4 linked regions of the Homo sapiens genome follow. The protein of the gene in region 3 interacts with the protein of the main gene of each other region in a pairwise test. Each region holds a gene or a part of one and is shown on either strand. Other genes may lie near its edges.

Evidence for each region.
Region 1: the proteins of ZZZ3 (region 3) and ZNF496 interact in a two-hybrid assay, tested with the Homo sapiens proteins (one large-scale study listed by BioGRID and IntAct).
Region 2: the proteins of ZZZ3 (region 3) and TRIM22 interact in a two-hybrid assay, tested with the Homo sapiens proteins (one large-scale study listed by BioGRID and IntAct).
Region 4: the proteins of ZZZ3 (region 3) and PCBD2 interact in a two-hybrid assay, tested with the Homo sapiens proteins (one large-scale study listed by BioGRID and IntAct).

What each region holds. Positions count from the first base shown.
Region 1 is NC_000001.11:247,302,132-247,311,000, reverse strand, and holds part of ZNF496 (zinc finger protein 496), read left to right. Parts: intron 1-544; coding exon 545-677; intron 678-1,194; coding exon 1,195-1,302; intron 1,303-2,412; coding exon 2,413-2,526; intron 2,527-2,973; coding exon of another isoform or gene 2,974-3,128; exon of another isoform or gene 3,129-4,299; intron 4,300-8,869. UniProt on the Homo sapiens protein: DNA-binding transcription factor that can both act as an activator and a repressor.
Region 2 is NC_000011.10:5,696,864-5,703,289, forward strand, and holds part of TRIM22 (E3 ubiquitin-protein ligase TRIM22), read left to right. Parts: intron 1-384; coding exon 385-480; intron 481-1,451; coding exon 1,452-1,682; intron 1,683-6,426. UniProt on the Homo sapiens protein: Interferon-induced E3 ubiquitin ligase that plays important roles in innate and adaptive immunity.
Region 3 is NC_000001.11:77,632,089-77,640,957, reverse strand, and holds part of ZZZ3 (ZZ-type zinc finger-containing protein 3), read left to right. Parts: intron 1-1,355; 5' UTR 1,356-1,486; coding exon of another isoform or gene 1,487-1,509; intron 1,510-7,552; 5' UTR 7,553-7,603; coding exon 7,604-8,869.
Region 4 is NC_000005.10:134,957,414-134,965,789, forward strand, and holds the end of PCBD2 (pterin-4-alpha-carbinolamine dehydratase 2), read left to right. Parts: intron 1-1,626; coding exon 1,627-1,707; intron 1,708-3,172; coding exon 3,173-3,268; 3' UTR 3,269-5,231; downstream 5,232-8,376.

The sequences.
Region 1 (8,869 bases), about 170 Mb from region 3:
TAAATGAGATGTTGGACTCCGGACTTTTGAGTTGATGCTGGAATGAATTAAGACTTTGAGGGTTATTGGGATAGAATGAATTTGTTTGGCATGTGAAAAGGATATGAATTTGGGGGAACCAGGGGCAGAATGCTATGGTTTCAGTGTTTATATCTCCCCAAAATTTGTGTTGAAATTGTAATCCCCAAGATGATGGTATTAGGAAGTGGAGACTTTTGGGGAGATGATCTGGTAACAAGGGCAAAGTCCTCATGAGTGGGATTAGTCCCTCCTAAAAGAGGCCCCAGAGAACTCCCTTGCCCTCTCCATCATGTAAGGACACAGAAGACACCTGTCTTTTGACCAAGAAGTGGGCCCTCACCAGGCACCCAGCCTGCTGGCACCTTGATCTTGGACGTCCAGCCTCCAGAACTGTGAGGAACAGATTTCTGTTGTATAGAAACTGCCCGTCCTACAGCGTTGTGTTGTCACAGCCTCAGTGGACTAAGACTGAGACACCTAGCTCGTCCCGGACTGAGGCATCCCTGTTCTCCTGTGCTTTCAGAGTCGGGTTTCTCCATTCAAGGACATGATTTTATGCTTCTCTGAAGAGGATTGGTCCCTTCTAGATCCTGCCCAGACTGGCTTCTATGGAGAGTTCATCATTGGGGAGGATTACGGGGTCTCAATGCCTCCAAGTAAGACTTAACTTCCCCCCACACCTCAAGACCAGGGAACTGGGCAGGGGAGTTCTCACTTGGAGTAAGAGTCAACTTCGTCCCATAGGATCAGGGAAGCGGGGCCTGCATCAGATCTCTCTGTTCACCCCCAACCTGGACAGGAGGTCATTTGCACACAGCGGCCCTACAGGCAGTGTGTCCGATTGACCATCACCTGCTGTCTCGCCACATCAGGCTTATCAGAACCAAATAGAACATGTGCTGTATGTCCATTTCTCTTCCATCGTTCTTACCGTTTTGTCCCTTTATGTCTGCTTTACACCCGAAAGCCTCAGAGAGACCCCCAAGCCCATAGCTCTCCCTGCGTGTGCTGCCCCCACTGCCCCTGCACTGCCAGCTCTGGCCTTTTCACTTCTCGCCCCTGATGGTGCCATGCCCGCTGGGCATCCCTCCGCCTTCTCTCTTCTGGACCAGCCCTGGTTGCTGCAGGATCAGATTACTAATAAACATGTACCCTGCCTTTTTCTTTGAACAGACGACCTAGCTGCCCAGCCAGATCTCTCCCAGGGAGAGGAGAATGAGCCACGCGTTCCAGAGTTGCAGGATCTCCAGGGCAAAGAAGTGCCCCAGGTCTCCTACTTGGGTGAGTAATGATTCCAGAACTGAGTGGACAGAGTAGGGGGAAGGGTTGCTGGCAGCCGGAGGTGAGCCCACTCTCTGGCTTCTCTCTGCGGCCCCTAATTGCCTTCTTCATTTCCCCAGACTCTATGTGGGTCTTGCATGTCTTGCCTTGTCCCTGACTTTTCATAGAAAGAATGGAGGATCTTAATTTTGCCAGGCATTGGAATTGTACTCCCTTGGCCAAGGACTGGGAAATAATAGGAATGTCTTTCTCCTCTGCCTGTAAGTAACATCTGGTTTGTGCTGACAATGCAGCAGCCCCTCCAGGAGTGAAGTCAGATACTCATGACAAGCCTAGTTGCAGAGGGAGTGTCTCCTAACTGGGCACCGAGCGCAGCCCTTTGAGGTGCCTCACCTGTCTAGTCTTCCCATCTGCCTGGTACAGGGGTGCTGTGAGGACACTGGGGTGTGGGGAGGTGCTGGGGCTCAGCAGCAGCAGTTTCCAGCCCTCCTTCAGGCTGTGTCGCCAGCACTTGCACCCATGATCTCCATGCCATGGTGCTTCGAAGCATCTGCTCCTTCAGGAGGAAATAGCTTTGTACAGAATCATCAGCAGCTCCACACCTTCTTCCCCTTTGGGACCTAGAGCTGGCATGAAGCAGACAAGGTTTTGACACACCATCCCCACCTGGAACAAGCGTTCAGAGACTTGGTGTGGTGCAGTAGCTCCTGTACCATCTCTACCCTGTAGGCTCTGCACAAGCTGTTTGTGCAGGATGTGCGGAGTGTGCAGGAGCCTGTGGTGATGACTATAGAAAACCCACCACAGAAAGTGGGAATAAATATGGGGCTGGGGGAAGTGCTTGTCTCTGGCCATAGAGTGGGTGGAGTAGAACCCGGATCTACGTCGATTCTGTCTAGCGTCAGAGCTCATGTTTGTGGAGTTGGCCCATTTTGCCTTCAGGTTCATTCACTCAGCAGACACTTATTGAGTGGCCACCCCCTGCCAGTCCCCAGGACGGAGCCCAGGGCCGCCCCCAGATCGTAGCCTGGCATCTATTCGGATAGCACCCTCCCAGGTAGTGCTGTAGGTGCAAAACAAATCAATTTTTCCATTTCCTCCTCTGGAAAGACTCTCCAAGTCTCCAGCCATTCCAGGTAGAAGAAAGAAGGAAACGTGAGGAGCTGCAGGTGCCAGAGTTCCAGGCCTGCCCACAGACGGTGGTGCCTCAAAACACCTACCCAGGTAAAGAAGGGTCAGGGAGGTATGGGTTTGTCCCTGTGTGTCTGTGGTGTGTCGCATGAATGTATGTATGCATGTGTGGCATAGGGGATGGTTGTGTTGAATGCATGTGTGCGTGCATACACATGTGGTATATGTGGTGTGCTGCATGTGTGAGTGTGTGCATTCATGGGTGCACCTGTGTGTTGGGGGCATGTGGGTGTGTGATGTAAATGTGCGGTGGTGATGGCATGGGACAGTTAGGAACTGAACCCCTCAGGATCCCCGCCGACCTCTGCTGTGGTGTTCTTAGCTGCTTGCCCTGATTCCGTTGTGCTGGGGTCATTCTCCAGCTCACTCCCAATCCCAGGCTCACCCTCCTTGCCTTTCCCAGGGGCCGGGGAGGGTGTGTCAAAGCAGGGTGCTGCTGTAGTGCTGTTGGTGATGCAGTGAGTGTTTTTCTTCTCTCAGCATGGATGGCCAGCATCCTGGCACAGAATCTTGGAACTGGGATTAAAGAGCAGGTTTCTGGCATACTGAAGCTGCACAGGACTCTTGGAAAGTGTATGTTCCATTCCTGCTTTCAGAGAAATAGCCACAGTGTAGACTCTGAGTCGTCTTGGTAAAAGTCACCACTTCCAGAAGCAGAGGCTACAATACTGCCATCTTTCTCTTCTCAATACAAAACCCAAGCCTCTGATTCTTACCTGAACCCACGTGTCATTGTAGTTTTCTGCAGCTATGGAGACCAACTCACACATATTATCTCTTCTACCTGTGATGCTTTTGAAGGCAAGATTTATGCCATTTTGACCCAGCTCCATGCATCTTGTACTTGGCCCCCTTTCATGCATGGACAAAGGGGCTTTTCTAGTGTGGGAGATCTGAAAGGATGAGATCCTGCTCCACAAGCATGGATGCCCACCCCTGGTTTTCTAAGAAGCCCACCTCTGCGTGCCAAGAGTGATGCATTCATTTGGGGTCCACTTGGAGTTCAAGCGCAGGCCTGATGTTTGTGGTGCACTTTGAATCTTCTCTAGCTTCTTTCTGCCCATAGCATGTCTCTCAGCCCCATCAATATACTTTTAGAAGATGGATGGATGTTCATTTATACACAGGAGTTTTCAACTCCATTCTTCCCTTGCTGGACTCTGACACAGACTGCTCTGAAACAGCCAGAAGCCAAGGGTTGCTACTGAGAAAGGGGAGAGACGATATATTTCAAAGAGTGGGCACTGTACTTATTTTGGTAGCTCCTGCCAGCTTGCCTTCCTAAAAGGCTTTTCCCGCCAGCTGATGCCGGATAGCTGGTGATAAGGTCTGCTTCTCTATATCCATGCCCACGCAGGACACTCCCAGATGTTCAGTTTGTGCCAATCAAATAATGCTACTACATCCGCCACTGAGGTGGAATATCTTTTCTTGTTTATTGTGTTCTATGAATTGCCTAGTTAGTATTCATTTATCCTTATTTATTTATTTTTGCACTCATACTTGTTTTCTTTATGTCCTAAACATTGCACCAGGATTCAGTGATTTACATGATGACATGATTCTGTGCATTGTATCTTCATGGCACCTTCTGAGATAGGTGGCATGATGTCTCTGTATTGCAGCTGGGGCACCCGAGAGCTGAAGTCACTTGCCCAGAGTCCAGTGCTCACAAGCTGTAGGTGGTGGAGTGAAGATTTGAACTCAGGCTGGGCGCAGTGGTTCATGCCTGTAATCTCAGCACTTTGGGAGGCCGAGGCGGGCAGATCGCCTGAGGTTAGGAGTTCAAGACCAGCCTGGCCAACATGGCGAAACCTGTCTCTACTAAAAATACAAAAATTAGCCAGGCACAGTGGCAGACACCTGTAGTCTCAGCTACTGGGGAGGCTCAGGCAGGAGAATCGCTTGAACCTGGGAGGTCAAGGCTGCAGAAATCATGACACTGCACTCCAGTCTGGACAACAGAGCGAGAGTCTGTCTCCAAAAAAAAAAAGAAAAAGAAAAAAAAAACGGCCAGGTGCAGTGGCTCACGCCTGTAATCCCAGCACATTGAGAGGCTGAGGCAGGCAGATCGCTGAGGTCAGGAGTTCAAGACCAGCCTGGCCAATATGGCGAAACCCCATCTCCACTAAAAAATATAAAAATTAACCAGGCGTGGTGGTGGGCACCTATAATCCCAGCTGCTTGGGAGGCTGAGGCAGAGAGAATTGCTTGAACTCAGGAGGTAGAGGTTGCAGTGAGCCAAGATCACGCCACTGCGCTCCAGCCTGGGACACGGAGCAAGACTCCATCTTAAAAAAAAAAAAAAAGATTTGAACTCAGGCTGTCAGGCTTCAGACCCATGGCTTTTACTCTACATTACCAAACCACGGTTTGCTTTTTCTGTGGATTCATAGAAACTGCCATCTTTCATAGGTTCTTCTAAATACCAAATCCAAGTCTCTGATTCTTACCTGAACCCACGTGTCGTTGTAGTTTTGGGTCTGAATCCCTTGCCTCTGCTGTATTCATACATAGTTTCTTCCATTTCCCTCAACTTTGTTTATGTGTCTTGCAGCATATAAATGTTTTGTTTTGTTTTGTTTTGTTTTTTAAAGATGGGGTCTCTTTATGTTGCCTAGACTGGTCTTGAAGTCTTGGGCTCAAGCAGCCTTTCTGCTTTGGCTTCCCAAATAGCTGGGGAGACTACAGGCGTGTGCCATCATGCCTGGCTTAAATGTTTTCTTACAGTTTTTAACTGTAGGTACACTTATTCGTCATCTTTTTGGTTTTATGCCTTGCTTGAGAAAGCTTCCCCATTCTAACTTTACAAGAATATTTTACAGTTTTTAATAATGCCTTTATCATTTTGGTTTTTCACATCCAGCTTCCTAGTCTCCCCTGCTGTTCCCCTTAATCCCCTCAGCTCGCAGGAAGTCATTCATTCCTGGCCAGAGCATCCTTCCTGAGGCGATAGTCATGGAGTTACCTGCACGCTGCATGCCTTTGCCACTCCGCCTGCAACAAGCACTTGCAGCAGCCTGGCTGCCTGCTAGCTATGTGGCCACGAGCCCTGGTCCCATCTCCACTGGCTCAATTCCCCTGAAACCTTGGGCAATTTCACTTTTCTGCCTTACATTTTTTATTTGGAAAACAGAAATAATAGTTAAAGCTGCCTTGTACAGTTATTGCTAAGGATTAAATGGTTTAATGCATATACTGGCAGTTAGACCAATAGCTCTTTTCTTTTTTTTCAGACGGAGTCTAGCTCTGTCACCCAGGTTAGAGAACAGTGGCGCGATCTTGGCTTACTGCAACCTCTGCCTCCCGTGTTCCAGCAATTTTCCTGCCTCGGCCTCCCACCATATGTGGGAGCCCACCCACCCATATGTCGTCATGTTCACTTAATTACATCTTGAAAGAGCCTATCTTCAAATACAGTCACATTCTGAGGTCCTTAGGGTTAGGACTTCAACATGAAATTTTGGGACAACACAATTCATCCCCTGTAAGACCTCACCCTCAGGACCTTCAAAATTCATGTCTTTCCCACATGCACAATCCATTCACCTCATCCCAACAGCCCCCAAATTCTCAACCTGTTTCAGCATCAACTGTAAGTCCAAAATCTCATCTAAATATCAACATCTCAAATCAGGTATGGGTTAGACTTGAAGTATGATTCATCCTGAGGCAAAACCCTCTCCAGCTATGAACTGTGAAACCAGATGTTTTTTGCTTCCAAAATACAACTGTGAGAAAAGCATAGCATAGACCATTCTCATTCCAAAATAGAGAAATCCAAGAGAAGAAAGGGTAATGGGTCCCAAGCAAGTCTTAAATCTAGCAGGTCAGGGCTAGGTGTGGTGTGGCTCGTGCCTATAATCCCAGCACTTTGGGAGGCCGAGGCAGGCGGATCACCTGAGGTCAGTAGTTCGAGACTGCACTGGCAAAAATGGGGAAACCCTCTCTCTACTAAAAATACAAAAATTAGCCAGACGTGGTGGCACACACCTGTAATCCCAGCTACTCAGGAGGCTGAGGCAGGAGAATTGCTTGAACCCAGGAGGCAGAGGTTGCAGTGAGCCAAGATCATGCCATTGCACTCCAGCCTGGGCAGCAAGAGCGAAACCCCATCTCAAAAAAAAAAAAAAAAAATCTAGCAGGTCATTTCCATGGGATTTTAAGGCTCAGCAATAACCTCTGGCTCAGTTCTCTGTTCTCCAGGCCCAGCAGGCTACTGGCCCTGCTCTTTGGAACTCAGAAGGAAATGACTTCACCTCCTGAGCCTGTACTCTCTGGTCCCATGATGACAGTGGCAGTCCTGTAACCTCTGAGCCACCTTTGGAGTCATTCTTCCCTTTTCTTGAAGGATAGTACATATTCATAGCCAGATAGATCTATCGGCCAGTTTGTAGAATCCCAGAAGTCCTAGCCTTCTTTTATTTCATCCCATCTCTTTTCCTTTCAGTTCCAGCTGGCAGTGTTTCTGCTGGTATATAATACTCAGAAACCCTGCCCTCCATGCAGTCCACAGGGTTGCAGGCCGTCAGACGAGGGTGTCCTCCATAGACCTTCCTGGATAACCTCATCTCTGTTCCTGGCTTCTGTTGAGATGGTTGATTGGATCCGTGAATCATACCCAGAATCTCTTTAACAAATGATGAGCCAGCCACACTCTTGGTGTCTCTCCAGTGCACGCTTTCTTATTTTTTGCCGTATGGATAGACAGAATTTTCCAAATCTTGAAGTCATGGTTCCTTTTTGCTACAACAATTCCTTCTTCAGTTTATCTCTCTCATCTCACGTTTCACTATAAGCGGCAAAAAACTAGTCTTTGCCTTTGACACTTTGCTTCGATACCTCCTCAGCTCAGTATCCGAGTTCCTTACTTACAATTTCTGTTTCCACAGAACAGTTGAATATGGTTTGGCCAAATTCTTTGCCACTTTATAATTGGAGGATCTCCTTTTCTCCAATTTCCTATAACGTCCGTATTTCTACCAGCCACTTCCTCAAGGCTTTTTAAACATGCACTTCAGAACTCTCCTGGCCTCTCCCCATGACCTAGTTCTAAAATCACTTCGACAGTTTTTGGTCTTTGTTTTAGCTGCACCCTACTTCCTGGTGCCAAAGTCTATGTTAGTCTACTGTGGCTACCATAACAAGGTACCACAGGCTGGGTGACTTAAACAACAGAAACTTACTTTCTTACAATTCCAGAAGCAACAAGTCCAGAATCAAGGCTTCAGCAGAGCTGGTGTCTTCCAAGGCCTTTCTCGTCTTGGAGACGGCTCCCATCTTGCTGTGTCCTCACAGGGTCCTTCCCTCTGTTGAAGTCTGCCTCCAGTCTCCTCCTCTTAGAAGACCAGTGATTTTGGATTGGCCCCACCATCTGACTTCATTTTGACTTAATTACTTCTTGAAAGACCCTATCTCCAAGTAATCACATTCTGAGGCTCTATGGGTTAGGGCTTCATCATGTAAATTTTCAGGGGGACACAATTTCGCCCATAACATGCACTGTCTGCTCTCATAATTCCATCTCCTCGCCCAGTTAACAAGTAAGAGATCTTAGCGGTCCACCTTGTCACTTTGTTTTCTTCTTCCACCCAAGTCCATTAACAGAAGTCAACTGCTGATCAAGTACCTTGTCATCGGCAGCCTGGTAAAAGTTACACCTTGCTCTTGTCTCCACCCCATGAGGTCCACAAAGTACATCATACACATGACCTCACCTGCCCCACCAGCAGCTTAGAGCAACGGGCTGCCACTGTCATTCTCACCTTGTAGACGAGATGACCCAAGCTCAGAGAAGCTGTCTGGCTGGAACGAGGTTCCTGCAGCTCGAAAACCAAGAGTCGAGATAAGCGTCAAACATAGCCTCTCGGCGGGCGCAGTGGCTCACACCTGTAATCCCAGCACTTTGGGAGGCTGAGGCAGGTGGATCACCTGAGATGGGTGGCTCGCTTGAGCCCAGGAGTTTGAGACCAGCCTGGGCAACATAATGTGACCCCATCTGTACAAAAAATTAAAAACACATGCACACACACAAACACAATCTCTGTCTTCATCTGATGATTTCCCTCCTATACTACGTGGGTTCTTGGCAGACTCAGTACCCACTCCCAGACTCATGTTCCCCCGACCCCCTTGTGACTGAGGGACAAATGCCCCCTCCGCTTCCACCATTGCCCTTTATCTCTCTGCTCTCCATAGCCTCTGTGTCTTCCTGCCCTGCTTCTGTTTGTCCAACTTCTCCTGTCCTGAGCTGCTCTGACTAGCCAGGGCTCTCCTCCCCACAGTCATGAAGCCCAGACTAACCATGTTCCTACTCTTATCTGGGAGGGCCTGGTTCACTCCCCCCAAGTTCTAGATTTGAGTTCTACATTTCACA
Region 2 (6,426 bases), on a different chromosome or scaffold from region 3:
AGGAAAAGTTGAATGAATGGAGAATTGCTTTGTAAGATAAGCTTTCATTGCCCCTCCAAGAAGAACAGTATTTTTGGGAACACGTCTGGTTAGATGTGGGAAGAGTGGCAATGAAAGGACGTCTTTCCTTACTGCAGGGTCTGCTTTTTCTCTAGGAAAAGAATCAGGCTACTCTTGATAAGAGGATGGTGACTTCCATCATCCAGGAATAAAGAATACATTCATCTCCTCAGATTTTCCCCCATGCCATAGGTTCTAATCACCAGCCTCACTGTTTCTGTAAACTAGTTTCTTCTGAGAGCCATCCAATTTCTTCCTTGCTGTCCTCTATTCAGGTGCTGAGAAAGCTCATAACTTTACTCTGGTATAATTTATTTCTTACAGGAAAAGCTGCAGGTAGCCCTGCAGAGGCTGATAAAGGAGGATCAAGAGGCTGAGAAGCTGGAAGATGACATCAGACAAGAGAGAACCGCCTGGAAGGCAGGAGGAGACACCTCCTAAGGGATAATTAGACAGGAATCTGGGCAGGACCCTGGGCTCTATCACAAGGAGACCCCTTCCTCTTTGCTGTGCTAGAATTAACAAGCATAGAAGTCATTTGATTAGGTCTCAATTTAACTCCTTCCCTGTTGGAGTTTAGGGGCTGGAGAGTAGACATATCATAAATCAACACTATATTTGGAAGTGAAGGCATGGAGGGAAATATCTGTGAAAACGCTTCCTGTGAATCCTGTGTTCCATTTGTGTCATCAGGTTTGAGGCTCCAATCCTTCCAGTAAACACCCTGGAGAAAGACCCAGGATTCCCTGTTTAGGGGGTTTCAGTAGGGGGATTTTTTTGTTTGTTTGTTTGTTTTTTGAGACAGAGTCTCTCTCTGTCATACAGGCTGGAGTGTAGTGGCGCGATCTTGGCTCACTGCAACCTCTGCCTCCCTGGTTCAAACGATTCTCCTGCCTCAGCCTCCCGAGTAGCTGGGACTACAGGCATGTGCCACCATGCCCAGCTAATTTTTTGTATTTTTAGTAGAGATGGGGTTTCATCATGTTAGCCAGGATGGTCTCAATCTCCTGACCTTGTGATCCACCCATCTCAGCCTCCCAAAGTGCTGGGATTACAGGCATGAGCCACTGTGCCAGGCCAGGTAGAGGGATTTAAGATACAGAAAGGCAAAGTTGTTCAGGACAGGTGTCTACAATCCAAGCCTCACCCAGGCATCACATTTTGTCTCAGATTAGGCCTCAATAAAACTGACTTGAGTGTATTGCTTTGGGAGGAGCTCAGGTTAAAAAGTAGAAAAACATGGCTTCACCAGAAATTGTGTATTGGCTTTTGCCTCCTATTCCTTTTGAGAACTCCCTGAGGAAAACTGTTCTTATCCTGTCTCCCAGGCTCATACAAAGCAGGCCTTCAACCAGCCAGACTGACTGCCTCTTTCTCTTTTCATTCCCAAGAATTATATCCAGATCGAGAGACAGAAGATTCTGAAAGGGTTCAATGAAATGAGAGTCATCTTGGACAATGAGGAGCAGAGAGAGCTGCAAAAGCTGGAGGAAGGTGAGGTGAATGTGCTGGATAACCTGGCAGCAGCTACAGACCAGCTGGTCCAGCAGAGGCAGGATGCCAGCACGCTCATCTCAGATCTCCAGCGGAGGTTGAGGGGATCGTCAGTAGAGATGCTGCAGGTAAGACTTGGGATGGAGCACCTACGTAAGAGATTAGGGGAAAAACACAGAGGCCGATTTTCCTTCCCTTCCCAGTCTCTAGGCTTTCTTCTGTGTGGTGACATGAAATGGTTCCTTTGGCCCGGCATGCCCCTTTTATGCCCATCATTTCAGGGGTCACAGAGATCATTAAGTGTATGAATGGGAAGGGAAATTCCCATTATTATTCACTTATGAGAGCAGTGTAAAAATTTGAGCTTGGAGAGGATTCTTTGTACCATGAGCATATCAGTTTTAGAACTTTCCCATCACATCAAAAACATTTCTCATGCCTGTTTGCAGTCAATATCTGTTTCTACCTCCACCTCCTGGCAGCCTATCTGTTTTCTGTCTGTATAGAATTGGCTTCTCTGGACCTTTCAATATGAATTGAATTATAAAACATGTAGTCTTTTGCATCTGGCATCTTTAACTTAGCATAATATTTTGAGGTTTATTTATATTGCAGTATGTATCAGCATTTTGCTCTTATTGCTAATACTATTCCATTATCTGAATATATCATATTATGTTTATGTATTCACCAGTTGGTGGCTATATGAATATTTTCCAGTTAGGGACTATTATGAATAATGCTACAGTAAACATTCACTTACATGTCCTCATACAAACATGTTTTCATTTATCTTGAGTAGATTTTAAGAGTGTTGTATGTTGTGGCCGGGCGCGGTGGCTCACGCCTGTAATCCCAGCACTTTGGGAGGCCGAGGCGGGTGGATCATGAGGTCAGGAGATCGAGACCATCCTGGCTAACAAGGTGAAACCCCGTCTCTACTAAAAATACAAAAAATTAGCCGGGCGCGGTGGCGGGCGCCTGTAGTCCCAGCTACTCGGGAGGCTGAGGCAGGAGAATGGCGTGAACCCGGGAAGCGGAGCTTGCAATGAACCGAGATTGCGCCACTGCAGTCCGCAGTCCGGCCTGGGCGACAGAGCGAGACTCCGTCTCAAAAAAAAAAAAAAAAAAAAAAAAAAAAAAAAAAAAAAAGAGTGTTGTATGTTGTTTATGTATAAGTTTTAAGTTGTCGTACTATTTTCCAAAGTTGTTACTCACTTTATATGAGTAACAATACAAAAGCTTATAAAAAGCAATATAAAAAGTTTCTAGGTTCTTCACATCCTTGTTAATACTTGATTATTTCCTTTTTTTTTTTTTTTTTAGTTACAGCCTTTCTAGTGGGAACATAATGGTATCTCAATGCAGTTTTGATTTGCTTTTTCCTAATAACTAACACTGCTGAAAAGCTTATTATTTCCACATGTAGATTCTGTACCTTTTTAAAGAGTTTTTTCTGTTTTACTTTTGGTGCTATTGTAATTTTTTTTTTATTTCAAATTTCAATTCTTCATTGCTGGCACATAGAAAGGAAACTGACTTTAGTATTTTAATCTTGTATATTGCAACCTTGCTATAATTACTTATTAGTCATAGAAGAGTTTTTTTTTTAATGTCAATTCTTTGGCATTTTCTACATGGAGAATCATGTCATCTGAGAATAAAGTTAATTGTTTCATACTCTGCAGTTTGTATGGTTTTTTTTTTTTGGTGTATTTTTTTGGAGACGGAGTCTCTTACTGTTACCCAGGCTAGAATGTGGTGGCACAATCTCACCTCACTGCAACCTTCACCTCTCAGGTTCAAATAATTCTCCTGCCTCAGCCTCCCAGGACTAGCGCACACCGCCACACCTGGCTACATTTTTTTTGTATTTTAGTAAAGACAGGGATTCACTGTGTTGCCCAGGCTGGTCTCGAACTCTTGAGCTCAGGCAATCTGCCCGCCTTGGCCTCCCAAAGTGCTAGGATTAAAGGCGTGAGCCACCGCGCCTGGCCAGCAGTTTGTATAGTTTTTATTTGTCTTTGCTTGTTTTATTACACTAGCTAGGACTTCTAGTACAATGTTCAACAGGGATGGTGAGAGGGGATATCCTTTCCTTTTTTCTGACCTTAGGGGGAAAGTACTCAGTCTCTCACTTATAAGTATGATGTTAGCTATAGGAGTCTTTTTTTTTTTTTTTTTTTTTCAGATTTGTAATGAAGTTGAGAAACTTCCTCTTTTTTTCTTTTTTTTGAGACGCAGTCTCGTTCTGTCACCCAGACTGGAGTGCAGTGGCACGATTTCGGCTCACTGCAAACTCTGCCTCCCGGGTTCAAGCGATTCTCCTGCCTCAGCTGGGACTGCAGGCCGCCCACCACCACATCCAGCTAATTTTTGTATTTTTAATAGAGACAGGGTTTTGCCATGTTGGGCAGGCTGGTTTTGAACTCCTGACCTCAGATGCACCCGGCCGAGAAACTTCCTCTTTATTCCTAGTTTGCTGAGACTTTTTATCATGAATGGTGTGAATTTTGTCGAATAGCTTTTCTGCCTCAGTTGATATAATCATATGATTTTTCTTCTTTATTGATATGGGAGATTACATTAATAATTTTCAAAGATTGAACCAGCTTGCATACCTTGAATAAATCCCACTTACTTGTGGTGCACAATTTTTATATATATTTTGTTGGATTTGTTTTACTAACGTACTGTTGAGAATTTTTGCATCTGTGTTCATGAGAGATACTGGTTTCTGGTTTTCCTTTCTCATAATGTCTTTACTTGGCTCTGGATTAGGGTAATGCTGACCTCATAGAATGTGTTACAAAATAGTCCATCTCCTTTCATTTTCTGAAACAAATTTGGGGAGAATTTTAATAATTTCCTTCTCCAACTTTTGGTAGAATTCATCAGTTTACCAATAAAACCCACTAAGCCTATTTTTAAAGTGTTGCTTAATATTTTGGAGTATTACAGCTGTCTGTTACTGATTACTAGTTAAATTCTATTGTTGCGTAAGAAAACATTTTGTATGAGTTCAATTGTTTACATTTGTTAACGTGTATTTTGTGGTATAGAATGTGTTATAGCTTGGTTAATTTTCAATGTGAGCTTGAGAAGAATAGATATTTGCCTTTAGATGGAATATTCTATGAATGCCATTTAAATCAGTTGCTATATAGTGTGCTGTTCAGGTACAACTGTAGCGGTAATCATTTCCTGTGGCTGCTGTAAGAAATTGTCACAAACTTTATAACTTAAAACCTCATACAAAAAAATTGTCTCATAGTTCTGAAAGCTCAGAGCCCAAAATCAATGTACCAGCAACCACCAGAAGCTAATAGGGAAGCGTGGAACAGATTACAGCAGGGACCAACATTACCAATATCCTGATTTTGAACCTAGCCTCAAGAACTGTGAGAGACTAAATCTCGGTTGTTTAAAAACCATACAGTTTGTGCTGCTACGTTGTTAGAGCAACCCCAGAAAATTAAAACGCCTACCATTTTTCACTGTTTTCTATTGACCGTACTTGCTCTTTGCTTTTTTTTCCCTTCCTCTCTTTTTCTGCCCTCTTTTAACTATTTTGTATTATTCAATTGATTATTTTATATTATTCAATTTTCTTTCCTCTCTTAGCTTATTAGTTATATATTACTAATATACATCACAAATATAGCTATATTAGTTATATATAATATACATAACTAATATATATTAGTTATATATTACATATACATAACGAATATATATTAGTTATATATTACATATACATAACTAATATATATTAGTTATATATTATATATACATAACTAGTATACATAACTAATATATATTATATTATATATAGTTATATATAATATATAACTAATATGCCTAAAGGTATATATATAAATATAACTAATATGCCTAATAATATAACTAATATAACTAATAATAATATAACTAATATGCCTAAAGGTATATATATAAATATAAAACAAACATACAAATATATTTGAAATATAAAAATATTTTAAAAATATAAACTTTTTATAAATATATAAAAATATATTTTAAAAATATAAATAACACTATACATATATATATAAAGGCTTAGTGGTTTCCCTGGAGTTTGCAATATGCATTTACAACTAATCTAAGTCTAATTACAAATAACACTATACCCCTTCACATGTAGTGCAGGTACCTTAGAGCAGAGTATCCTCAATCTTGAGTAACGTTGCTGTCATTCATTTCACTTATCCATAAGCTGTAATCGCCCACTACATTGTTGATATTATTACTTTAAGCCATTATCTTATATATTAGTTGAGAATCAGAAAAACAAAATATTTTATTTACCTTTACTTCTTTTTCAGTGCTCTTTCTCTCTTTGTGAAGATCTGAATTTCAGACATATACTCTTCTTCCCCCTGAATAATGTCTTTTAACGTTTATGGCAAAGTATTTCCTTCATTATTGCGGGACAAAATTTCTGAATATAAAATTCTTGAGTCATGGGTGTTATTCTTTCAAAACTTTAATATTTATTCCACATGCTGAACTTTTACTAGTTTTAGTAGTTGTGTGTTTGTGTGTGTATATTCTTTGAGATCATTTACATACTGAATCATGCTGTCTGTAAATAAATATAGTTAATTTTAAAACTGCAACTTTTATTTTAGATACAGGGAGTATATGTGCAGGTTTGTTACATGGGAATATTGGGTGATGCTGAGGTTTGGGATACAGATCCCATCACCCAGGTAATGAGCATATTACCCAATCAGTAGTTTTTCAACTCACACACCCTCCTCCCTCCCCTAGTGTAGTCTGTAGTGTCTATTATTTCCATATTTATGTCCACGTATGCTCAATAGTTAGCTTCCACTTATAAGTGAGAAC
Region 3 (8,869 bases):
TACCTTGTGCTTTTTAAAGCATTTCCAGGGCATGTTTGGGAGAGGTGGCATCTATAGATATTAGATATTACTATCCCTATTCTCTTTCTAGCTGACTAGAGCAGTAACCTATTTTTATTATGCAGTAAGTCTGCCTAGTAATTACAAGATTTTGTAATTATATCAGTCTTTAAGTTGTAATGCTTTCCCCAAAATGTATCACTATTATAATATCTAGTTTTATGCTTATAATAAAGCGACAGTTTCTGTCATAAACATCTGCTGGTCGTTTTCTTAGTCCTCTTCCTTGTTTTCAGATGGGCACTCATAGTAACCCATTTAGCAGATTGTACATTCTCTCTTTTTTTTTTTTTTTTTGAGACTGAGTTTTGCTCTTGTTGCCCAGGCTGGAGTGCAATGGGGTGATCTTGGCTCACTGCAACCTCTGCCTCCCAGGTTCAAGCGATTCTCCTGCCTCAGCCTCCTGAGTAGCTAGGATTACAGGCGCACACCACCATGCCCAGCTAATTTTTTGTATTTTTAGTAGAGATGGGGTTTCACCATGTTGGCCAGGCTGGTCTCGAACTCCTGACCTTGTGATCCACCTGTCTTGGCCTCCCAAAGTGCTGGGATTACAGGTGCGAGCCACTGCACCTGGCCTGTACATTCTTTGAAAAGGATATCATAATAAATTATTATATAGTAAAAATTAACCAGACTGTTCTAAGAAATGGAATGTAATTAGATTAATTAAATTGTCTGGCTAATTGGGTACTAAAACCGGAAAATCCTTGTTGTTCTTGTTCTTGTTAAAAATACATATGCCAAAAATAATAGAAATGTCCTTTTGTAATTGAATTTTGTAGCACTTGAATAAGCATCAAGGTTTTCCTATAGGTATAGAAGATTTGGTTGATTATTTGTGTGATTCTTTTATGCATAACCTAAATGGTTATGTATACTTGATGTCGAGAATTTGGGAAGTCCTCTAGGACAAGAGTACGAGATGATATTATAAATTCTGTTATGAGAAATGCTATCAAGGGCAACCTTTATCACCGCAAAAAAAAAAAAAAATACTCCCTTAGAGCAATGTCTAGAAAAGAGCAAGTCACATTTTGACTCAGTTCAAACTAATATTGAGTTGTAAGGATTTGGTATATTTTAGTATCTTTTTGGTTTGCTTTTGTTGATTTCTAAAAATCCTATTTCAGTTTCTTAGTATTCTTGAGGCTACAGAGTTACCGAGAAGCATGAAAGATGTCACTATGAACAGTTTCTGTACCTGTATTTCTTCTTATTATAGAAGGAGTAAATCTATTAGCATAAGTTCATCATCTTCTTTAATCCTTTTTTTTCATTATTTTATTTTAAAGAAAAATTTAGGAGGTTCTAGTATTCTTCATGGCTGAAGCTGAGAGAGTCTGAAACCCTGATGCTTAAGCTCCATTCTAGATCATAGCTCCAACTCCTTCAGGATATAAGGAAAAGAGATTATATTTCCACAATGATAGATCTTTGGTTGTACAGGTAAGTTATTTAGTTTTGCAGTAGTGAAGACAGCTATAGTTTGACTTCTTCTTCTTTTTTTTTTTTGAGATGGGGAGACTTGTTATTTTTCCATACATCCTCTGGGTGGCAACTTGTAGTTTGGCTGGCTGTTTATAGGAGTATGGAGCTGCAGGGAATGGGTTAGGAATGAAATATTTCCCTCCCTTTTTTTTTCAATGGGGTATAAATGAAGTGACTGATTATGTTGGAATTTTTTACTCAGGAGGCATTGTGAAATTCCTTGACTTCCTTTTCCTGATCGTCTTTTAAAGTGTGTGTTCATTTACTTTTGTCTATCTGTCTGTCTGTCTGTCTGACTGTCCGCTTATCTGCCTGCCTACCTACCTACCTACCTACCTACCGACCATCTGTCATATATCAGTTTCTCTTAATGGGAAAGAAATAAGAAGTCTCTTTATGTAAAACAATGCATAATAGAGTTCCCAGACTTCAAAGAGGTGACTATTTAAGAACCTTAAGTTGAATTGCATGGGTGGGTTACCAGCCAGGTTTTACTCTTCTACTTTTAACATTATAGATATGGTGGTAATTGCACTGCTGAGGTATTGTCTTAAAATAATTATATGACAAACATGGCCTCAACGTTATTAAATAGTTTATGTTTAGACAACTAGAAAAAGAATCATATTGGTTACACTTTCCAGTTGCATTTGCTCTTTTTTCCTTTTACTTTGGTTTGTCTATGTGAATATATTCTGGTATCATGACCAGTTTACTAAAAATTTTTCACTTAATAAAACTAAATATTATGATAATAAATATCAGCTAAACCATTGGTGTGATGGAAGATTGCCAGCTGCTCAATTCCCAAAATAAACTGTACCACTTTGGTGATTATAGTAGGAACAAAAGCTTATAGGCAAGGTCTTTGAAATATCTTTTTGAAATTTCTTTCTCTTAAGTAAATAGCTGGAGAAGTGTGTCATTAGGTGGGCCTTTTTTGTTTAATAATTATTATCTGTTTTAGTTCTTATGCGTACAGTTCTACAGGTATGATCATAGGAGCTGGAAATTTATGACCTGAAATGTAGCTGATAATGCTTCAAAGAGTGTTTTTCAGAATCCTATAGTTATATTTGGGTAACAGTAGATTCAAATTTATGAGAGGGCAATTCAGCAGCAAATATGTGGGTAGGATATGTGAAATTATAGGTAGGATTGAGGGCTTAATATGAATGGACAAGTTGAAATTCGGTTGACTAGTCCTTCTCAGATATGGCCTCCAAGAGGATGAGAATTTATGAAGGTGGGGAAGAGAGGGAGGGAGTCTGGTTAATTCTAGTTACTGACCACACTCTTTTTTCTCTGAATTCTAGAAAGTGCAACCATTCATTATTTGGTAGATAACATATAGGAAAAACTCCAGTGTAGTTGTTAGTTAGATTGCGTTTTGCCCATATGAATATGTTAATTAATGGCTTCCCTTATTTCTAAAACTAGATTGATTGCATTTCTAATTTCAGATGGATGCTGGCTAAGGTTTTTACCATATACCTCTTATTTTGTTAGCCAACAGGGTTATTTCCTGAGATAATTTGTAAATAAGTTCATTTTTATTCCTTAACAATATTTGGCAGAAATATAATTTTGTACTCTAAGCTTCTTTATTGTATTCTTAAGAAACATTTTGCAATGCAGCTAAAATGAGGAAAACAACTGCTTTAGTCTATAATATTTTGCTAAGCTTGGCAAAACAATGTTGAGACTTGGTTGAGATAATACAGACTTTTTATTTTTTATTTTCTAACAGAAAGGGTCTCACTATTGTCCAGGCAGTTCTCAAACTCCTGGGCTCAAGTGATCCTCTTGCCTCAGCCTCCTGAGTATCTGTGACTGTAGGTGCCCCCACTTCCCTGCCCCTGCACCTGGCTAATCTAGACATTTTTGGTCCCTTTTTATTAACTGAATTTTGCACTCAGTTTATTAGATAATTATAGAAAGTGTGTACCTTTATATATGCCTATCCAAAATAGAAAAGATATGAAGAAAAAGGTTAGAACAGAAAAAAATGATCAGAGGGAAGATTAGCAAAATTTTGTTTAACTCTGATCTTAATAATTTTAACCAGTTTATTACCTCAAGTGCACATCACATGTTAATTTCAGGTAAGATTTTTTATAGTCTTCCATTTGGTGCTTCCTTGGTCTTATTTATAAATTTTTTTATTATTAGGATCCAGTAAGAAATTAAAGGGTATTTTATAAATAGTTCTAATTTAGTTTGAAACTTGATGACTATTATCTTATTAGAATTCTGTCTGGGTTCACTAGCCTAAGGCAGTGCTTCTCAAACCCTAATACATACATGAATCACCTAGGAGCCTAATTCGTTGGTAGGTCTGGGGCGGAGCCTCGTATTCTGCATTTCTAACAAGCTTCCAGGAGATGCCCGTGATTGAGCTGCAAGAGCCTGAGGTACCACAAGGATCCTTGTTATAAAACAAGTTCTCTTTCAATACAGCCCAATAGCACAGAATTTGACAATCCTAGCACTAGGGCTTTGTTCTAGTTATTGAGTGAAATAAAAGCATTTTTAGGGTACAGAAGAAATGGAAAGAACCTTAATCTTTTATATTAATCAGTGTTTTCATATTTTATTTAACTTTTGTATTAATCAGTGTTTTCATATTTTAATCAGTGGAATGGTGAAAAATTAAGATAGGCCTTACTATACGTGATTTTTTTTTTTTTTTTTTTTTTTTCAAGACAGGGCCTTGCTCCCATCACCCAGGCTGAAGGGCAGTCACATCACTACACCCTTGACTTCCCAGGCTCAAGTGATCCTCCCACTCAGCCTCCCTAGTACCTGGGACTACAGGCAGGCTTCACTACACCTGGATAAATTTTTTGTATTTTTAGTAGAGACAGGGTTTCGCCATGTTGCCCAGTTTGGTCTCGAATTCCTGGGCTCAAGTGATCCACCTACCTCGGTTTCCCAAAGTCCTGGGATTACAGGCCTGAGCCACCATGACCAGCTTATAGGTGATATTTTATAGTAAAGAATATATGTATAAAAAAAAGGTTTTTAGTACTACTAATAATAGGTTCATTTCATCCAAAATAGTCTCTCTTTGAGAAGTTTGTACTGCAAGGCAAATTTTGCTCCCATTCAGATTGGTGTGGAAAGAAAAGGTTAAGGAAGTCTTATTATTGGAATAATTTAAGAGGTTTTTATGCCCTTAATTGGGATTGCATTTTAAAAAGTAAAGACTAACAGATTCTTTTGTGTGTTTATAAAGTATTTCTATTGTCAGTATTATTTTTGAACCATAAATTATGAGTATAGTTGAATTTACATTAAAGATAATATGTATTAGATTTTGTAGGCATTTTAGTTATTAAATTTAACTTAGCCTTATGCTTTTTTTGTGCATTTACATACATATTTAATATTTAAAAATAAGTAATCTTAACCCTTTAGAGTGCCAGATTTGGATACATGAAACAAGTAAGTTGCTTTTCATGTATTTCAGTTTGTGTTCTTTTCTTTTTATTTTTTTTTGAGACAGAGTCTCGCTCTGTTGCCCAGGCTAGAGTGCAGTGGCGCGATCTCGGCTCACTGCAACCTTTGCCTCCTGGGTTCAAGCGATTCTCCTGCCTCAGCCTCCCGAGTAGCTGGGATTACAGGCATGTGCCACCATGCCCTACTAGTTTTTGTATTTTTAGTAGAGACGGGGTTTCACCATGTTGGCCAGGCTGGTCACGAACTCCTGACCTCAAGTAATCCGTCTGCCTTGGCCTCCCAAAGTACCGGGATTACAGGCATGAGCCACTGCCCCTGGCCAGTTTGTGTTCTTTTAAAACATCATTTGAAGTTTAACTTAAATGTTTTACAATTAAAAGTGGAAAATTATGGGACACTCAGTGTTTGTTACCCATGAAAGAAACAGATTGTAATCTTCATGATAATATATTAGCAAACGATAATTAAATGTCAGCTGTTCTTTTAATGAATCCCCCAAACAATGAAAGTTTACTACTGTAAGAAATGTGTTTCTAAGTTCTGATTTGTGTCTTGTACTTATTGTTCACTTGGTTGCTATGAAATTCTGTAGAACATATAACCATGCTTTAATTCCAGGGCTAGTTTTGTGATTCTTATAAGATTTAAAAAAATTGTTAATTAAAAATTTAAAAGTATGCCATACTTTGAGACAACACTAAACTCAGGCAACTTAAATATTTTACAGGGTACTTTCTCACTTAATTCACTTGTCAGCAGGCAGGAACAGGGAGATTATTTCCTGTAGTGTTTCTTTTTTATATGTGGTAGCATGTTGCTGTGTCTTCTATAATTCTTCCAAACTTTCCACTGTTAGATAGTTCTAGTTGAAGCAAGGAGAAATTGTGTTTGATTTTTAGGGGTAGGAGTCAGAATGGCATTTGGAGGTTTACATGAGAAGGGAGACTGTTGATGACCAAAGGCAGGAGGAAGGGACTGTGAAACTTTGCACTATTGCCACCACTGGCCTCTTTCTCTAACTAATCATCCTGCATCTCATTCAAAGTTAGGAAATAAAATGACAGGGTACCTTGTGAAAACTAAACAGAAGAGGAGTCGGGGAATAGAGACTTCAAATATTAACAGCTCCTTTATTCTGCTTGATGGGAGAGCCTCTGGAAAATATCACCAAATCACTAGTTTACCCAAATGGATCAATCAAGGCATTTTTCTATATCCCTTACATTTCTGTCATATAAACCTCAAGCATCCACACCAGAATACCTGCTCATCTCCCAAACCACACATTAAAACTGGCACTGGCATATGCTATACACAGGAGTTCAAAGAAGGAAAGGGTGGGATTACAGGAGTAGTCTTGATTTCTTAAATGTAAGTATTTGCTTCAGAGGCTTCTTCCCCATTTTCTTTTCTGGTCTTTGGAACACTCCCTTTCACTTGCTAATTTATGGCTTTATTTCTAGAGACTAGGAAGGCTTGGGTTTGCTTTGTTTTGTTCTTAGCCAATGCAAGCTAGCATTGTGATTTTTGTCTATTTAGTTATGAAAAATTATACTGCAATAAAAAATTTTTGGATGCCAGATTATTATTAAGGGATTTGATCTGAAACTCATTTTAGCAAAAGTAAATTAAAAAGAGGAGAGCCTGCCTTTCTGTATACCGGGAACATTTTGAAAGAACACGAGAAATGATTGGAATAGTTTTTTGAAAGATAGCTGCTATATAAGTTCAAGATTATTATTTTATTTATTTTATTTATTTATTTATTTATTTTTTTGAGACAGTCTCACTCTGTCGCCCAAGCTGGAGTGCAGTGGCATGATCTCGGCTCACTGCAAACTCTGCCTCCCGGGTTCAAGTAATTTTCCTGCCTCAGCCTCCTGAGTATCTGGGATTACAGGCGTGTGCCACCACACCTGGCTAATTTTTGTATTTTTAGTAGAGACAGCGTTTCACCATGTTGGTCAGGCTGGTCTTGAACTCCTGACCTCATGATCCTCCCGCCTCAGCCTCCCAAAGTGCTAAGATTACAGGTGTGAGCCACTGCGCCCGGCCGAAGATTATTATTTTAATGACCAAAATGAAATCACATCTTTAGGATAGATCTCTTCTGGGTGTTTTATGCCTGAGAGGCAGATACACAGTGAGGCAGTTATGGTCTCTAGAGCCCTGCCTTGCTACTTACTAGAGTTGTGACCTTGGATAGAATATTCAGAGTGTGCTTTAATCTCATTCGTGAAGTAGGGATGATAGTAGCACCTATCTGAGTTGTTGTGAGACTTAAGTGAGTTAATGTATGTAAGGCATATAGAAAGACTCATGGAACATATTAAGTACTGTATGCTTGTTAGCTATAATTTATATCATTATTGGAAACGTTAAAGAATTTTTATCACATAATTTAATATTGGCAGTTATATAGATAGTTATAGACTGTAATGTCCAAGTATACTTGGATTAAAAAGTTATAGCTTTATACTTTCGTTCTGGGTATATTAACTATTACCTTTTTCTCATTATTTTGTTTACATTTTTGAAGGTTTCCCAATGAGTGGATCATGATGACCGTATTGTAGGGACTTGCCATAGTATGGCTGCTTCCCGATCTACTCGTGTTACAAGATCAACAGTGGGGTTAAACGGCTTGGATGAATCTTTTTGTGGTAGAACTTTAAGGAATCGTAGCATTGCGCATCCTGAAGAAATCTCTTCTAATTCTCAAGTACGATCAAGATCACCAAAGAAGAGACCAGAGCCTGTGCCAATTCAGAAAGGAAATAATAATGGGAGAACCACTGATTTAAAACAGCAGAGTACCCGAGAATCATGGGTAAGCCCTAGGAAAAGAGGACTTTCTTCTTCAGAAAAGGATAACATAGAAAGGCAGGCTATAGAAAATTGTGAGAGAAGGCAAACAGAACCTGTTTCACCAGTTTTAAAAAGAATTAAGCGTTGTCTTAGATCTGAAGCACCAAACAGTTCAGAAGAAGATTCTCCTATAAAATCAGACAAGGAGTCAGTAGAACAGAGGAGTACAGTAGTGGACAATGATGCAGATTTTCAAGGGACTAAACGAGCTTGTCGATGTCTTATACTGGATGATTGTGAGAAAAGGGAAATTAAAAAGGTGAATGTCAGTGAGGAAGGGCCACTTAATTCTGCAGTAGTTGAAGAAATCACAGGCTATTTGGCTGTCAATGGTGTTGATGACAGTGATTCAGCTGTTATAAACTGTGATGACTGTCAGCCTGATGGGAACACTAAACAAAATAGCATTGGTTCCTATGTGTTACAGGAAAAATCAGTAGCTGAAAATGGGGATACGGATACCCAAACTTCAATGTTCCTTGATAGTAGGAAGGAGGACAGTTATATAGACCATAAGGTGCCTTGCACAGATTCACAAGTGCAGGTCAAGTTGGAGGACCACAAAATAGTAACTGCCTGCTTGCCTGTGGAACATGTTAATCAGCTGACTACTGAGCCAGCTACAGGGCCCTTTTCTGAAACTCAGTCATCTTTAAGGGATTCTGAGGAGGAAGTAGATGTGGTGGGAGATAGCAGTGCCTCAAAAGAGCAGTGTAAAGAAAACACCAATAACGAACTGGACACAAGTCTTGAGAGTATGCCAGCCTCCGGAGAACCTGAACCATCTCCTGTTCTAGACTGTGTTTCAGCTCAAATGATGTCTTTATCAGAACCTCAAGAACATCGTTATACTCTGAGAACCTCACCACGAAGGGCAGCCCCTACCAGAGGTAGTCCCACTAAAAACAGTTCTCCTTACAGAGAAAATGGACAATTTGAGGAGAATAATCTTAGTCCTAATGAAACAAATGCAACTGTTAGTGATAAT
Region 4 (8,376 bases), on a different chromosome or scaffold from region 3:
CTAATGCTAAACAAGAATAAGGCATTATAGGCAGAGTAGAAATTCTCCTTATACGTAGTTTAATGTGGGTTAACTCTATGTTTGAATAATTAGAACAGACTTTCATGGCTGGGCATGGTGGCATGCACCTGTAGTCCCAGCTCCTTGGGAGGCTGAGGCAGGAGGATCCCTTGAGTGATCCCTTGAGCTCAGGAGGTTGAGGCTACAGTGATCTATGATTGTGCCTGTGAACAGCCCCTGCATTCCACCAGCCTGGGCAACATAGTGAGACCCTGTCTCTATAAAAATAAAAAACAGGCTTTTGTCCCTTCCCTTCACATAATCTAGACAATCAGATTATGAGATGAGAAGGGCTGGGAAAGTGAATATTGTTTTTCCACAGATAATTCCATACATGGTCAAATGGATTTTGCTTGAACTTTCTCCCTTTTCCTATAGGGAAAACCTTCAGGCCTCAAATGTCAACATGGAAACTTTTATCCCAAATAAAATTGGCTCCGAGAGAGGTACCATAGTGAATGATATAGAATTGTTTAAAATGGCATCTTCTGTATTTCTCACTGTTAACTAGGAAATACACACTTAGGTCATTTGGTGATCCCAAAAACATGGCTTGACTAACATCATATTGGTTTTTCTGGATAGGGGTAATGAAGTTAAATATTTGTTTACGTGGGTGTAATGGGTATTGCCCTGTGAATGCCACTCTAACTTTGTAATTCATGTGCCATTACCCTAAGAGTCTTACCAAGTATTTGTGCATTCTGGAACAATAGAGACAGACTCTCCTATTGTTTGCAGTTACCTTCATAAAAAATTGAAAACAAACAAAAAAATGAGTTTTTTCCTTCTTCTGAAGACAAGTTTACCTTCTGCTTAACAAAATTGTTTCCACTCCCCGTGTGGTATAAAGACAGAGCCCCGTCAGTCCACACTTAGTCGTGTGACTGGTTTGCAGCCCTCTGCTCATTTCCTGGCTTGCCTTCTGCCCTGAGGTGGGTGCACTGTCACCTTGAAATGGCAGTGCAGGGCAGTAGCAGGAAGAACCCAAGCAGGCAAGCTGGGCTTCTGTTTCACTCTAGGTGCCAATAGTCTTTGATTTGTTCCTGTCCTGCCTGGGAGGTGAGATGAAGAAGTTGTTCATTTCTGCTGGTGCTTTTGCTTAAGACACCCTCAGGAGACCTTTTTCCATAGTCTTGTGGGTTGCCTTAGTTAGCAACCCAATCACTAAAAACAAAAGGAACAGAGCTGCAAGAAAAGTGGCTCCTAATATTTGGAGCCAGGTAGTGAGACCCAGAGCACTGGGTTGAAGGGAAATTATTCCCGTGCTATTTTGTAGAGTCTTGTCCTGAGGACAATTAAATAGTCCAGACGGGTCACTAGGTGAGACCAATTTCCTGGTTTGTTTACTCGAGCCTGATAGTTTTTCACCATCCAGCAGTAGGTCACAGTCCTGCTGCACTGTGACCCCAGAGGCCTGCAGAGAGCAGTCCTTTCATAGTTGATTTCCACAGGCTTCCCTAAGGATCCTTGCCTGCCTTTATGTGGTTGGATTGCTCTGTTGTGTCTCTCAGGCTTAGGGTAGAGGACAATGTCAGTAATTACTCTTGACTTCATCTTATGCAGGCATTTGGCTTTATGTCCCGAGTTGCCCTACAAGCAGAGAAGATGAATCATCACCCAGAATGGTTCAATGTATACAACAAGGTAACTAAACTGCCTTATTTGGGAATCACCTTAATTATGGAGTTTAAGAAACTTCTTTCTTCCTTGTCATCTTGTGCAGCTAAATGTCATTGTACTTAAGAAAGTCTTATCCTTTCTCTCAGAATCCCTGTGTATTATTGCAAATTAGTAACACATTTTCAGGTCTGCTCCTAAGAACAGTGAATAAGCTCTTTATTTTCATGCTTGTCTTTCTACTGAAGCTAATATGAGAAAGTTGGGCCAAATGAGGCTCCTGAATTAAACCGGAGTATCAGCCATGCAGATACGTTTCAAAACTTAAGGTAAATTATTGAAAGAAATGGTAGCAAATCAGATAGATATGGCCTCATTTATCTCGTTGAAATATTTTTACTCAAGAACTGTGCTTTGAAAACTATTAAATTTTGTATCCTGCGTAGGAAATGACCTTATTTAAGACAAAGGACAGACTAAAAAGTTTTGAGGGAACACAGTGAGAAGAACCTTGTTCCTCCCAAAGTGTCCTTGCCTTTATGGTCATGCCATTTGAAATGTCTTATCATCTAGATTTCTATGAAGTCTTCTCTGTGAAAATCTTTGAAAAAAGAGAATTTCACAATACTCACGTGACTTAATAGAATAACTCAGAGCACCTTGGTACCAGGCTAAACTTTTCTTTGCTATTTGCTTCTCTTTGCTCGTAATTTTGCTTTTACTTTATAATCAGTTCATCAAGAAACAGCATTCCATCCTTTACTCCCATTTCCCTAATTTAGAAATGTGCTTTTTTTTTTTTTTTTTTTTTTTTTGAGTTGGAGTCTGGCTCTGTTGCCCAGGCTGGAGTGCAGTGCTGCGATCTCAGCTCACTGCAGCCTCCACCTCCCGGGTTCAAGCGATTCTGCTGCCTCAGCCTCCCGAGTAGCTGGGATCACAGGCGTGCAGGGTAACTTTTATATTTTTAGTAGATACGGGGTTTCACCATGTTGGCCAGGGTGGTCTCAAACTCCTGAACTCAGGTGATCCGGCCTCCCAAAGTGCTGAGATTACAGGTGTGAGCCACCATGCCCAGCCAAAATGTGCTTTTTAAACGTTGCTGCTAAGATATTACATTTGATAGCTTGGTTTTTCTCAGTGGCCTGAAAATAGTTGATGTAATTAAAGTAACGAGAGTTCAATTGGAACCTCAGTCTCTCTTTTTATTTAAAGAAACAAGATTTGAGATTCTGGCAGCTGCATTGCCTCTTCATGGAAGAGAACTTTTTATTTCAAGGTGGCTGTTGAGCCAGGCCTAATGTAGACTATGCCCCTGGAGTTCGCTGGGTTTTGGAAATGTTTTGCTTATTCATAATGTAGTATTTTCTAAATCATTTAATCCCCCTAATTCTCAAATATGAATGTTGAATAATAGACTGATTTCTGAACTGCCAAAGGAAAATAACCATGATTTGCTGCTCAGAGTTTTAAAAACTGCTTTTCTTTTTCTTAGGTCCAGATAACTCTCACCTCACATGACTGTGGTGAACTGACCAAAAAAGATGTGAAGCTGGCCAAGTTTATTGAAAAAGCAGCTGCTTCTGTGTGATTTCTTCCAAAATACATGTAAAATCTTGTACACATCTTAGCTGCAATGTATGTTGAAGGAAATTTATGTGAACAAATAGAGTTGTTCTTTTTCTCTTTTTTTTAAGACAGAGTGTTGCTCTGTCGCCCAGGCCAGAGTGCAGTGGTATGATCTCGGCTCACTGTAACCTCCGCCTCCCAGGTTCAGGTGATTCTCCTGCCTCAGCCTCCTGAGTAGCTGGGATTACAAGCACGTGTCACCACGCCTGGCTAATTTTTGTATTTTTAGTATAGACAGGGTTTTACCACGTTGGTCAGGCTGGTCTCGAACTCCTGACCTCGTGATCCGCCTGCCTCAGCCTCCCAAAGTGCTGGGATTACAGGCATGAGCCACCATGCCTGGCTGTTGAATTGTTCTTAAGGCATCATATCTAGAAGCAAAGAAAAAAGAAAAATAACAATTTAAGTTGTGTAAATTGTTTGCCTTTATATATTACATTTGGTAAAATCAGTGCTTAAATACGCAATGATTTAAACTGGAACCTGAGGTATTTTTCATGCTATCTAATCATATACCTAAGATAAACCAACCCAGTTACTTATATTAATAATATTCAGAAAGAGAAGTGGCTTTTTTTTTTTTTTGAGACGGAGTCTTGCTCTGTCACCAGGCTGGAGTGCAGTGGCGGGATCTCGGCTCACTGCAACCTCTGCCTCCCAGGTTCAAATGATTCTCCTGCCACAGCCTCCCGAGTAGCTGGGACTATAGGCACGTGCCACTGCGCCTAGCTAATTTTTGTATTTTTAGTAGAGATGGGGTTTCATTATGTTGGCCAGGATGGTCTCGATCTACTGACCTCGTGATCCACCTGCCTCCACCTCCGAAAGTGTTGGGATCACAGGCATGAGCCACCGCGCTTGGCCAGAAGTGGCATTCTTAAATTCAAGAAATTGGGATGGGGAGTATTCACACATTTTATAACCCAGAAATTCAAGCAATTCTGGTGACTACAAATGCATTGTTTTGGAGAATAGTTGTAAGGTGGAAAAAGAATTAGGAACTCGACAGATAGTGAGTTTTAACTTTAAATAACAATTCTTCTTTTGTTTTGTTTTGTTTGAGACGGGGTCTCGCTCTGCTGCCCAGGCTGGAGTGCAGTGGCAGGATCACGGTTTATTGCAGCCTTAACCTCCTGGGCTCAAGCAGTTCTCCCTCCTCAGCCTCCAGAGTAGCTGGGACTATAGGCAAGTGCCACCACGCCTGACTAATTTTTAAATTTTTTGTAGAGATGGGGTCTCCCATCTTGCCCAGGCTGGCCTTGAACTCTTGGGCTCAAGCAAGCCTCCCACCTCTGCCTCCCAAAGTCCAAGGATTACAGGTGTGAGCCATTGCCCCCAGCCAGTATAACAGTTTGTGTGTGTGTGTGTGTGTGTGTGTGTGTGTGTGTTTGACACGGGGTCTCATTCTGTTGCCCAGGCAGTAGTGTAGTGGTGCGACCATGGCTCACTGTAGTCTTGACTTCTCAGGCTCAAGTGATCCTCTCACCTCAGCCTCCTGAGTAGCAGCGGTTACAGGCATGCATCACCACACCTGGCTTATTTTTAAAACTTTTTTGTGGAGACAGGGTCTTACTATGTTGCCATGGCTGGTCTAGAACTTCTGGGCTCGAGTAATCCTCCTGCCTTGGCCTCTCAAAATGTTGGGATTACAGGTGTGAGCCACTGTGTCATAACAATTATTTTAAAATTTTTATTTATTTATTTTTAATAATTATACAAGATGGAGTCTCACTATGTTGCCCAGGCTGGTCTTGAATGCCTGGGCTCAAATGATCTTCCTGCCTTGACCCCCCAAAGTGCTGGGATTACAGGCGTGAGCCACTGCGCCTGGCCTATAACAATTCTTATGAAGCTAAAGTTGATTTGGATTTTAGCTGCCGTTACTACTTATATAATTAATTAGATTAAACAAGTCACAAAAATTGGATGAGCTATCTTGGTGTGTTTTCTTTACTTTTCTCTTTCAACAGAGAGTTGAAGGAGAGGACAAGTGTCTTGTCTGTGGCTTCCAGGAATGTGTGGCAATATAAGATTTACTGTTACAGCAGCCAACTCACCAAGTCATTATTTGACTTACTGAGTTAAGGAGGAACTAAGGGTCATTTTCCCCCCATCATTTGCATGTTTTGACTCCTGAACTGAGGGTCTACGGCCACTGAAGCTAGAAGCTAGAAGGGTGTTAATCAGTAGTGAGCTCTACTTACTCCATGTGTCACTGACAGATGTAAAAAGGAATATCAAGTAATCTATTATTTAAAAATTGTAATAAGAGTGTTTTTTGAAGGAATTCAGGAATGTACTACTAACGAGATTATGATGCAGGTATATCCATCCATGAAGCATTTGTTAGTCCCTTGAAGCATCATGGTAGTGGAATTTAACATGGATCATCTTTGTAAACCCACCTCTCTTTAGGGGCCAGAGAAATCACTGTTTGTTACAACAAGCAAACCTTTCCCTCTCCATGTCACCCTTGCCCCAAACCTGAGAAACATATGGGAACATGGCACAGAGGCTGAGCTCTCTGAAGCCAGTTCCTGGCTGGTTTTGCTGGCCAGGGAGAGGCAGGTGTGGTCAGTTGCCCTGTGGACATGTGGTGTGCAGGGAGAGAAGAGGGAAAAGAGCCACTCAGGCTCTCTGGCTGCCAGGGGATCCAGACTCTTAGCACTAGAACTTCTGTTTCTTAGAATTCTTCCCAAGGAAAAGACAAAACTGTGTTTTTATAAGCTGGTTTCCTATAGTGTAGATTTGGGACTTTTATACATTTTATTACCAAATATTTTTAGTTAAGTGCTTCAATTTTCAACATTAATTCTTTAAAATTTTCTTTTGAGAATCATCACCTGGATTTACATGAATTTTTTAAGCATGAAAAAATTTAAACATATTCAAAAGTACATGAATAGTACATTGAAGCCTTATATACATATCACCCAGATATAAAAATTACCAAGATTTTGTCCCAGTTGCTTCATTTTCCCTGTTTCCTTCTTTGCTAAAGTATTTAAAAGCAAATCCCAGATAGCTTATCATTTCACCCCTATATCCTTCAGTAAGTTTCTATGGAAAATATGGCCATTTTCTTGTATAAACCACAGTACCTCTGTTTTTTTTTTTTGAGATAGAGTCTCACACTGTCGCCCAGGCTGGAGTGCAATGGCGTGATCTTGGCTCACTGCAACCTCTGCCTCCCAGGTTCAGGCGATTCTCCTGCCTCAGCCCCCCGGGTAGCTGGGATTACAGGTGTGCGCCACCATGCCCAGCTAATTTTTTTTTGTATCTTCAGTAGAGATGGGGTTTCACCATGTTGGCCAGGCTGGTCTCGAGCTCCTGACCTCGTGATCGCCCGCTTAGGCCTCCCAAAGTGCTGGGATTATAGGCATAAGCCACAGCGCCCGGCCCACAGTACCATTTTTATACCTAACAAAGTGATTCCTTGGTACACTTAATACCTAGGCAAAATCAAATTGTCCTGAAGGTCATGAATGTCCTTGGACAGTAATCTGGTTCTAATCGAGGATCTATATGAAGCCCACCAATCGCATCTGGTTGTTGTGTCTCTTTAGTCTGTCAGTCTGGAGCAAGCTCCCCTCCCTTCCTCAGTTCCCCATGTTATTTATTTATTGTAAAAACTGGGTCAGTTGTGCTGTAGAATATTCTGCTTTCTGGATTTGTTTGTTTCTTCCTGTGGTGTCATTTAACTTGTTTTACTATACCCTAAACGGAACCCTTTTCCTCTGTTTTCAGCAGAAGTCTGAGAGGCTAAACTTGATGGCTGTGTTAACATATGTCACGTGTAGCACAGTGGAGAAAGCAGGATATGGCTCATAATGACAGTGGTGAAGACCTGCGAATGAAGTTGCTAGTTATCACCTACATTAGGGTTTGACATAGGTCTATGTTATGGGTCGCTGCATCTGCTGGAACTCACAGACTTTACTATAGAGAATCAAAGATCCCGTATCCGAAGTCTATGGAAATGCTCATGGTGGTAAATTCCAACAGAATGAAACACCAAACTTGCTTAAAGTAACTCACGTTTCAATTTGAAAGAGATATTGTCAAAATTGGAGGCCCCCAGGTTCCTGTCTGTTCCAAATCTTTGCATGATGACAGTGGTTTCTCTGATGTGGTAAGCTTTGGCTTTCTTCTGTTTTCTTTCTAAAAGATCACTGGAGTAGAGAGGAGTTAAACAGACATGACCTTTGACCTCTTGCATGACCTCCACAGATAGCAAACCGGGCCGACACATGGTTGACGATGTCCTTTTCTACAATGAAGTTAATGAAAGTTCTGAAAATAGTGATTACTTTCTGACATTGATAGGATTTAGGAAACCTCTGGATAAATAGCTTAAGCATGGCTGTTTATGTTTTTGCTATAGACAAAAAGCAGCAGCATGTACATTGTATTTGGACACAAGCCTGCCTCGGTTAATATATTGAACTATTGGACCACTAGGGTTAGTAGGGAGCGGTCTGTACACTTTCTGATTCAGCATTCAGAAACATTCTAGGTGGACTCTGTAGCTTTCAGTTTTGTAAAGTTATCAGAAAAACATCGGGAGGGTTTGGCCATCATATGTGAGCTTTGTGTTTCAATGCCAGTTACTCAGGATTAGTAAATTAATGACTGTCCAGAGGACTTCAGGGTCACCAAGCTGCTGCACCTGCCATTGGCTGACTCTCCCCGGCTATCTGTGGCTGAGATGGTGCTGCTTAGGTCACGCAGAGCATGAGCTGCTGCTGAAAGGGCACAGGAGATGGCCCTTGGGCTTCTCATCCCAGGATGCCTGCCCTGCCCACCAATCCATGAGAAGATATGTATGATTTCAGTAGGCCCTGGATCAGCTTGTCACCTCTGGTTTCCTGTTTGCTTTCCACTCACTCAGCTGGAGTTTCATTTCCAGACTAAAGTCTTCATCATTGGCTTCAGAAACAGCATTCATCTGTGGCTGTGCTGATGTAGTACACCAAGAACAACTGGGCTCTTCTCTGTCACTTTCAGTGGGCTACCTTCCCTCACCTCTCCAAGCAGCATGAAAGAATTCTTTACATTTTTAATCTCTTT